Homo sapiens: one gene and its partners. The protein of the gene in region 1 purifies or fractionates together with the protein of each later gene. This does not show direct contact. Each region holds a gene or a part of one and is shown in the gene's direction. Other genes may lie near its edges.

The links.
Region 2: the proteins of CHFR (region 1) and CHD1L purify together in Homo sapiens (affinity purification with mass spectrometry; one study listed by BioGRID). This does not show direct contact.
Region 3: the proteins of CHFR (region 1) and ZEB1 purify together in Homo sapiens (affinity purification with western blotting; one study listed by BioGRID). This does not show direct contact.

Annotation. Positions count from the first base shown.
Region 1 is NC_000012.12:132,856,463-132,860,120, reverse strand, and holds part of CHFR (E3 ubiquitin-protein ligase CHFR), read left to right. Parts: intron 1-893; coding exon 894-1,053; intron 1,054-2,561; coding exon 2,562-2,716; intron 2,717-3,490; coding exon 3,491-3,653; intron 3,654-3,658. UniProt on the Homo sapiens protein: E3 ubiquitin-protein ligase that functions in the antephase checkpoint by actively delaying passage into mitosis in response to microtubule poisons.
Region 2 is NC_000001.11:147,284,102-147,287,759, forward strand, and holds part of CHD1L (chromodomain-helicase-DNA-binding protein 1-like), read left to right. Parts: intron 1-249; coding exon 250-398; intron 399-1,222; coding exon 1,223-1,386; intron 1,387-2,196; coding exon 2,197-2,399; intron 2,400-3,533; coding exon 3,534-3,632; intron 3,633-3,658. UniProt on the Homo sapiens protein: ATP-dependent chromatin remodeler that mediates chromatin-remodeling following DNA damage.
Region 3 is NC_000010.11:31,527,709-31,530,411, forward strand, and holds the end of ZEB1 (zinc finger E-box-binding homeobox 1), read left to right. Parts: 3' UTR 1-2,096; downstream 2,097-2,703. UniProt on the Homo sapiens protein: Acts as a transcriptional repressor. Inhibits interleukin-2 (IL-2) gene expression. Enhances or represses the promoter activity of the ATP1A1 gene depending on the quantity of cDNA and on the cell type.

The DNA of each region.
Region 1 (3,658 bases):
TTGGGTGAGGAGCGGCTGAGACGGAGGGTGACTGCCTTTGTTTTCTTCTAAATATATTATGTATACATTTTTTTAAGAGACAGGATCTTGCTTTGTCACCTAGGCCAGAGCGCCGTGGTGCAGTCTTGGCTCACTGCAGCCTCCACCTCCTGGGCTCAGACTGTCCTCCCACCTCAGCCTTCCGAGTAGCTGAGACCACAGGTGCACGCTACCATAGCTGGCTAATTTTTTTTCCCATTTTTTTAGAGATGGGGTTTCATTATATTGCCCAGACTGGTCTTGAACTCCTGGGCTCAAGCGATCTGCCCACCTCAGCCTCCCAAAGTGCTGGGATTACAGTTGTGAGCCATTGCACCTGGCTTCTTCTAAATACTTGGCTTTTTAAATTGTGTACAGTTTCTTTAATTAAAAATAAAAATTAATTGATTACCAACATCTGAGCATTATAGAAAAATAAAAACACCAGAAGAGGGTGGGGCGCGGTAGCTCACACCTGTTACCCTAGTACTTTGGGAGGCCGAGGCGGGTGGATCACGAGGTCAGGAGATTGAGACCATCCTGGCTAACACGGTGAAACCCTGTCTCTACTAAAAATACACAAAATTAGCCGGGCGTGGTGGTGGGCACCTGTAGTCCCAGCTACTCAGGAGGCTGAGGAAGGAGAATGGCATGAACCCGGGAGGCGGAGCTTGCAGTGAGCCGAGATCGCGCCACTGCACTCCAGCCTGGGCGACAGAGCGAGACTCTGTCTCGAAAAAAAAAAGACTGCATGTATTTCCTTCTCGGTTACGACAGTTAGAACACATCCCTTTCTCCTGTGGACGGGGACCTTGACCTGAACCTGCGTGTATTTCCTTCTTGGTTACGACAGAACACATCCCTTTCTCCTGTAGATGGGGACCTTGACCTGAACGGGCAGTTGTTGGTCGCACAACCGCGTAGAAATGCCCAAACCGTCCACGAGGACGTCAGAGCAGCGGCTGGGAAGCCAGACAAGATGGAGGAGACGCTGACATGCATCATCTGCCAGGACCTGCTGCACGACTGCGTGAGGTGCGACCGTGTTCACCCTTGGCTCACGGAACATGGCACTGCAGGTTCTTCGTCCCGTGTGGGGCAGGGCTGGGCATGAGACAAGCCTGCAGGTCCTGTTTGGCCTGGCATCTGCTGAGGTTACTCTGTCACCCAGATAAGTGGGTGGAGTGGGTGGAGTGGGTGGAGCTTTCTCAGCCCACTGCAACCTCTCCCTCCCAGGATTGAGCGGTTCTCTGACCTCAGCCTTCTGAGTTGCTGGGACTACAGGTGCACACCACTATGCCTGGCTGACTTTTTTTTTTTTTTTAATGTTCTAAATATTTTTTATTCCTTTTTTTTTTTTTTTTTTTTTTTTTTTTTAGATGGAGTCTCGCTCTGTCACCAGGCTGGAGTGCAGTGGCACAGTCTTGGCTCACTACAACCTCAGCCTCCCGGGTTCAGACGATTCTCCTACCTCAGCTTCCTGAGCAGCTGGGACTGCAGGCGTGTGCCACCATGCCCGGCTAATTTTTTTGTATTTTTTAGTAGAGACAGGGTTTCACCATGTTGGCCAGGCTAGTCTTGAACTCCTGACTTCAGGTGATCTGCCCACGTTTGCCTCCTAAAGTGCTGGGATTATAGGCGTGAGCCACTACTCCCAGCCACCCTGCTGATTTTTGTGTTTTTTGTAGAGACGGTTTCGCCATGTAGCCCGGGGTGGTTTTTTGTTTTTGTTTTTGTTTTTTGGAGTTAGAGTCTCGCTCTGTCACCCAGGCTGGAGTGTAGTGGTGTGATCTTGGCTCACTGCAACCTCCACCTCCCAGGTTCAAGTGATTCTCCTGCCTCAGCCTCCCAAGTAGCTGGGACTACAGGCATGCGTCACCACATCTGGCTAATTTTTTTGTATTTTTAGTAGAGACGGGAGTTTCACCATATTAGCCAGGCTGGTCTCGAACTCCTGCACTCAGGTAATCTGCCCACCTTGGCCTCCCAAAGTGTTGGGATTACAGACGTGAGCCACCCCGCATGGCTACCACTTTCATTCTACTCGTGGCACCAACAAGGAGGAAACCTGGAACCCAGAGCCGGAGGCTGTAGACCCCACAAGTTTTGAGTGTGTGGGTCGTGTGTGACCCCGTGAACTCTGCAAACAGATGAAAGGAACTCTGCACATTTTAAATGCTCCTTATCTGGGAAGGTGTATTTCGCATAGAATGAACGTAGGAGCCGCTGAGGAAGGGCCTCCTTGCTTTTCCGCGGGAACTCAAGAGTGACAACCTTCCAACTTCTGGGCCAGAAACACTTGCTGTCTCTGTTGTTTGTGTTCCTGAAGTCATAATCTACTCGCCTCTGTCTTTCCTGAAAACACAGAGGCCGTGTGGCCTCTGATTTCTTTTCATTAACCAAGACTGACTTAAAGGGTTTTTAGGTTGAACGATGGCTGGGCCCCTGTAGGCCCTTCCGTGGTGGGGCTGCTGCGGACCTTGGTCGAGGGTCGCGGTTGCATCTGTGGGACTGTCTGGACACTGTTCCTCTTGCACTTTCAGTTTGCAGCCCTGCATGCACACGTTCTGCGCGGCTTGCTACTCGGGCTGGATGGAGCGCTCGTCCCTGTGTCCTACCTGCCGCTGTCCCGTGGAGCGGATCTGTAAAAACCACATCCTCAACAACCTCGTGGAAGCATACCTCATCCAGCATCCAGGCAAGTGAGGGCATCCACACCAGCACCCGGGCACGTGAGGGCGGTCCCTCCACCACCACCCAGGCACGTGAGGGCATCCACCCAGCAGCACCCGGGCACGTGAGGGCTGTCCCTCCACCAGCACCCGGGCACGTGAGGGTGGTCCCTCCACCAGCACCCGGGCACGTGAGGGCATCCACACCAGCACCCAGGCACGTGAGGGCGGTCCCTCCACCACCACCTGGGCACGTGAGGGCATCCACCCAGCAGCACCCGGGCACGTGAGGGCTGTCCCTCCACCAGCACCCGGGCACGTGAGGGCTGTCCCTCCACCAGCACCCGGGCACGTGAGGGTGGTCCCTCCACCAGCACCCGGGCACGTGAGGGTGGTCCCTCCACCAGCACCCAGGCACGTGAGGGCATCCACACCAGCACCCGGGCACGTGAGGGTGGTCCCTCCACCAGCACCTGGGCAAGCGAGGGTGGTCCCTCCACCAGCACCCAGACAAGTGAGGGCGGTCCCTCCACCAGCACCCAGGCAAGTGAGGGCATCCACACACCAGCACCCAGGCATGTGAGGGCGGTCCCTCCACCAGCACCCGGGCACGTGAGGGCATCCACACCAGCACCTGGGCACGTGAGGGCAGTCCCTCCACCAGCACCCGGGCACGTGAGGGCGGTCCGCCCAGACCCCTCCTTCCGCAGCACTGCGCACGCGAGCTCCCAGCAGTGTGAGCTGTGTCTGCCTGCCATGTCTCACTGCCGGTGAATGGCGCTGTGTCCTTTCAATTCTAGACAAGAGTCGCAGTGAAGAAGATGTGCAAAGTATGGATGCCAGAAATAAAATCACTCAAGACATGCTGCAGCCCAAAGTCAGGCGGTCTTTTTCTGATGAAGAAGGGAGTTCAGAGGACCTGCTGGAGCTGTCAGACGTTGACAGTGAGTCCTCAGACATTAGGTAAA
Region 2 (3,658 bases), on another chromosome or scaffold:
CATCTAGGGATGAACCAAAGGGTTTTAAGCCATGCTCTCCCCTTGGAAAAGTAAACACATGGGATCCCCATGTAGAACCCACATTCTTCAGTGTCAGTGGGATGGGAAATGAAATACCTTCCTTCATATGGACTTAGCCCATTTAGAATATAGGCTGTTCTCCTGTCCACTTTTGTTATTGATTTGAATAGCATTAATCTATTTTTCCTTGGTATCTAACATTTCTCTCTTTGTGTTTTATGTTGTTAGAAAATCATATGTACTTATTTGAAGGTAAAGATTATTCTAAAGAGCCCAGTAAGGAAGACAGAAAATCATTTGAACAACTGGTAAACCTTCAGAAAACCCTTTTGGAGAAAGCTAGTCAAGAGGGCCGATCACTCCGAAATAAAGGCAGTGTAAGAACTGTTAATTTATTTAAAAGTTGTTCTTCCAAACTCTCATTCTAAAACAAACAAAAAAATGATGCTGGCATCGTTTTGTTCTCTTAGGATGATTTGTCAAGAAATAAGTATGTGTTTGCTGAAATGTTATTATAATTAACTATACCCTAGTATAAAAACTATGTAAAAAAGTCAGCATGAAAAACATAAAGGAGAGAATATATTGTACGATGTCATGTAGGTGAAAGCAGCCTTGTCCATCCAAGTCACCCCTAAAGGCATTCCTATATTATACCAAAATACCATATCCTGCTGTTGGTAATGATGACCCTATGACAAGAAGAGAGGATGGCAATCATAAATGATATATGTAGTGTTCACAGTGTTTGGCAGTTAACGTGGTCATTAAATGCTAGCTATCACTAAGATAATCATGATGTTGAAATACAATCTTAAAAAAGTTACATAATACATTGCAGAAAGAGTTCCATTAAAAATGGCTGAAGTGGCATCCTGCAGGGTATGCTTTTAGTCAAGGAAAAAAGTTACTTTTCTGAAGTAACTTATTCCTAATGAAATGAATCAAAATGACTGTTTCAACCATGCCAATGCTAGGGCTGAGTTTACAGCATGGTATCCTGGTCACTGTGCCTGTGAAGTGTGTAGTATGAACAGTGCCTCCAAGTGCTTTGCCTCCAGTTCCCACCATGCAGGGTGTGTGGAGATGCAGTGTTCTGTGGAATATTAAGCATGTTGCTTCCGTACAGTGTGTGTTAGGGATAATGAAATTCGGGGAGGAATCTTCTTGACCCTGGTGATGGATCTTGTTCTTCCTCTAGGTTCTCATCCCAGGCCTTGTGGAGGGATCTACCAAAAGGAAGCGGGTTCTGAGTCCAGAAGAGCTGGAGGACAGACAGAAGAAAAGACAAGAAGCAGCTGCCAAGAGAAGGAGACTCATAGAGGAGAAGAAGAGGCAAAAGGAAGAGGCTGAACATAAGAAAAAGTATGTCTGCGTTAACCAAGCTGGCGGCCACAGTTGAAGGAGTCACTATTGTATAGTGAGACCACAGTTGAATATCACTTTAAAAATACAGAAAATTCATTTTAAGTTGGTTCCTATTGGTAACAGAATACTTTCTGAAAACATTTCCTCTAGGTAAGTGAAAAGTCTCAGTGTATAAGGCAGGGAAGATGCATTCCATTAAAACCAGAATTGTTTTCTTTTTTCTTTTGAGATGGGTTCTTGCTCTGTTACCCAGGCTGGAGTACAGTGGTATGGGCACAGCTCATTCAGCCTCAACTTCCCATGCTCAGTGATCTACCCACTATAACCTCCCTAGTAGCTGGGAACACAGGTGTGTGCCACCATGCCTGGCTAATTTTTTTTATTATTTGTAGAGACAGAGTTTCACGGTGTTGCCTAGGCTGGTCTCAAGATCCTAGGCCCAAGCTGTCTTTCTGCCTTGACCTCCAAAGTGCTGGGATTACAGGCGTGAGCTACCATGCCCGGCCAAAACCAGAAGATTTTAAGATTTTATTGTAGCTATCTGACAAAGAATAATTTACTTCAACAATCTCTTTTAGTCTTAAAAACAGGAACATTCAGGGAGTGCTCATTATTGAATTGTAGTCAGGAAGCAGTTAGCCTAATCAGTAAGACTTGTTTACAAATAAGTAGAAAACTTCAATCAGGGTGAGTTTCTAATTGCATTTCTACTTGGCAGATATTGTTTGTGAACAGCAGTATAAAATGTGCTCCAAGGGAAATTGTGATTGTCTGGGTTAATTTCCTTTTGTCTCTGGCCTGCTAAAGGATGGCCTGGTGGGAATCCAACAATTACCAGTCCTTCTGCCTGCCCTCTGAGGAGAGCGAGCCAGAGGACCTTGAGAATGGGGAAGAGAGCTCTGCTGAGCTGGATTACCAAGACCCAGATGCTACTTCCCTCAAGTACGTTAGTGGTGATGTCACCCACCCTCAGGCTGGGGCCGAGGATGCTCTCATTGTGCACTGCGTAGGTACGAGAAGTGGTATGGGCTGGGGATGGGGGCCTCAGTCCTTATGGTGCCAAGAACTGGGGAGGATGGGGCACTGGGACTGGGGTGGTGGTCCCAGTGTAGTATTGTACAGTCAAAAAAGTGTGAATTTTAGAGTCAGGAGATATTCCAGAATCATTTCACTCTTGGCTTTCTCATTTACCTGGTTTAGTTACCCAACCTTTCAACTTCAACTTCCTTATCCATATGATGGGACAATATCTGTCTTATCCTCTGCACAAGGTTTTTAAGAGGGTGAAATGAAGCAACATTGATAAGACAAACAAATCCTTTGAGAAAAAGCAAAACTTCAAGCTTGTTCCCTTGCTTGACCTTTGTACTTTTTACTTCATCTGCCTAAAACCCTTTCTTCCCAAATAACCACATCAAGTGTTGTTCAAATGTCTGTTTCTCAGAGAGGTCTTCTGTGATTACCTCATATAAAACAGGCCCCATCCCCCCTGTTATTCTCTGTCCCTTCTCCCATATTTTCCTTTATCACACCTGTCCCACCTGACACATTACCTATGTATTTGTTTATTTGACTGTTGCTTTGCATTAAAAAATACACTTATGGCAGCAGGGGTTTTTTCTTGTTCGCTGCTGTGACTGTGGTGCCTAGAACGATGCCTTACGTGTAATACATGCTACCAAACGTTTGTAGTGTGAATGAATGACTATAAATGCTAAGATACTAAGCAGCTTTGTTAGTACCAGCTTGAATAAGTCACTTAACCTTTCCTGTGTACTGTTTCATAACCTTGCCTATGTGCTGTTGCATAACCTATTGCTTCTACTCACTCTGTAATGTTCCATCTACTCTCCGTCCTTCCGCAGTCATTTGCCAGGAATCACAGATGCACCACAGAGATTTTGCTCATTGAGAACCCTAATTTTTGAGATGCTTTCCTGTTATCATGGCCCCAGCTATATCTTCCAGAAAACATAAACATATTTGGGAAGTCCAACCTGTGATATTCCTAGGAGATAAGATATTTTGTTTCTTCCCTTTGAAAAATCATTCTTCCACAAGTCCCTTTTGTGTGCCTTTGTTTTTCTAAATTGTGCACTGGACTTCACCTCCTATAGATGAAAATTTTCTCTTTCTTCAAACAGATGACTCTGGCCACTGGGGCAGAGGTGGTTTATTTACAGCTCTGGAAAAGCGATCCGCTGAGCCAAGAAAAATATATGAGCTGGCTGGGAAAATGAAAGGTAAGAAGCAAAGCAGAGGGAAAGGT
Region 3 (2,703 bases), on another chromosome or scaffold:
CATATGCTAAATCCGCTTCAGTATTTTATTATGTTTTTTAAAATGTGAGAACTTCTGCACTACAAAATTCCCTTCACAGAGAAGTATAATGTAGTTCCAACCCGTGCTAACTACCTTTTATAAATTCAGTCTAGAAGGTAGTAATTTCTAATATTTAGATGTCTTAGTAGAGCGTATTATCATTTAAAGTGTATTGTTAGCCTTAAGAAAGCAGCTGATAGAAGAACTGAAGTTTCTTACTCACGTGGTTTAAAATGGAGTTCAAAAGATTGCCATTGAGTTCTGATTGCAGGGACTAACAATGTTAATCTGATAAGGACAGCAAAATCATCAGAATCAGTGTTTGTGATTGTGTTTGAATATGTGGTAACATATGAAGGATATGACATGAAGCTTTGTATCTCCTTTGGCCTTAAGCAAGACCTGTGTGCTGTAAGTGCCATTTCTCAGTATTTTCAAGGCTCTAACCCGCCTTCATCCAATGTGTGGCCTACAATAACTAGCATTTGTTGATTTGTCTCTTGTATCAAAATTCCCAAATAAAACTTAAAACCACTGACTCTGTCAGAGAAACTGAAACACTGGGACATTTCATCCTTCAATTCCTCGGTATTGATTTTATGTTGATTGATTTTCAGAATTTCTCTACAGAAACGAAAGGGAAATTTTCTAATCTGCTTTATCCATGTACTTGCATTTCAGACATGGACATGCTATTGTTATTTGGCTCATAACTGTTTCCAAATGTTAGTTATTATGGACCCAATTTATTAACAACATTAGCTGATTTTTACCTATCAGTATTATTTTATTTCTTTTAGTTTATAGATCTGTGCAACATTTTTGTACTGTATGTCTTCAAACCTGGCAGTATTAATACCCTTCTTACTGACATATGTACTTTTAGTTTTAGAAAACTTTTATATTTATGTGTCTTATTTTTATATTTCTTTATTTATTACACAGTGTAGTGTATAATACTGTAGTTTGTATTAATACAATAATATATTTTAGTATGAAAATTTGGAAAGTTGATAAGATTTAAAGTAGAGATGCAATTGGTTCTCCTGCATTGAGATTTGATTTAACAGTGTTATGTTAACATTTATACTTGCCTTGGACTGTAGAACAGAACTTAAATGGGAATGTATTAGTTTTACAACTACAATCAAGTCATTTTACCTTTACCCAGTTTTTAATATAAAACTTAAATTTTGAAATTCACTGTGTGACTAATAGCATGATGCTCTGCAGTTTTATTAAGAAATCAGCCTAACCATACAACTCTCATTTCCTTAGTAAGCCAAATTAGGATTAACTTCTATAAACAGTGTTGGGAACAATGTTTAACATTTTGTGCCAATTTGTTCCTGTATTCATGTATGTAAGTTACAGATCTGACTCTTCATTTTTAAGTTCCTTGTTACATCATGGTCATTTTCTAGTTTTTTACCAGACTCCCATCTCACAATAAAATGCATCAACAAGCCTGAACTGCTGTCATTCTTTTCATCATTATCAGTATTTTCTTTGGAAAACTGTGAAATGGGGTACATTGTCATCCTGCATTTGATTCATCTTGAGCTGAATTTGGGTAACACTAAATGTTTTAGACATTCTCCACTAAATTATGGATTTTCTTGTGGCTAAATGTTTCTGGAGAGGTCAGAGTTGACAAAACCTCTTCACAGGTTGCTCCTTCTTCCTGAAATCCTTAATCCTCCGCATTTCATGCTTCAGGTCATTTCAGGGAAGCCTGGGTTTAGATGCCTTTCTGACTCTCAGCTCCTGCACTTCTGTCATCATACCTCTGATACTATTATTTATATTCCTTCCCCACTAGGAACAGGAACCACATTTGTCATAGTCACTCTCACATTCCTCACTGCCTAACAGGGTGCCTGGCATAAGTTGGGACAACAGATATTTGTTGAATAAAAATATAATTTGCATGTTTATGGAGCTCAGCTATGTTCTCACTTTTTTTGCTTCTAATTCCAGAATATATGTTAAATGATCTAATAATTTGATTATTTTCTTATAAGTCTTATTAAACACTAGTCATAATAGACACAATAAATTATGCCTTCTTTTTCTATTGCCTTACTATTTTGATTTTTTGAAAGTGTATTTCTAGGTGTCTTCCTGGTGCTTAACCTCATGGTATATGGCACAGGTATTGCTGGCTTGTGGACATGACTACCTCCAATAGGAGCGATAGGACTGATCCTAGTCAGCTCTCCTTTGTAGAATTCACTTCCCTTTCTAGGACCCCATATTCGTAGGTGCTCGTTACCATGTTGCCTGATTTCCCCTGTCACTGAGAGCAGCTACCAATAAACAGACTGACTGAAAAGGATTAGGAACTAAGAATAAGATACTCTTCTTAGGAGGTATCCACAATGTAATATAAAGTTCAATGAGGGCAGTGCTTGATATGTATGGATAAATGACTAATAAAGGAATTTAGGCATTACCAGAACTTTTCAGAAAGAAAACGTACATGGACCTTTCCCAGTATTCCCTCATATGACATACAACAAAAATAATAGCAGGGCCATATATTATTTATTCATGCCATGCACAGGTATTTCACTACTATCAAAATGTTCACAAAAGCCTCATAAAAAATACAAATAAAGACAATGTGCCCATGAACACATACGTCTTAAGTAGCAGAATGAGGATATGAACATAGGCTTA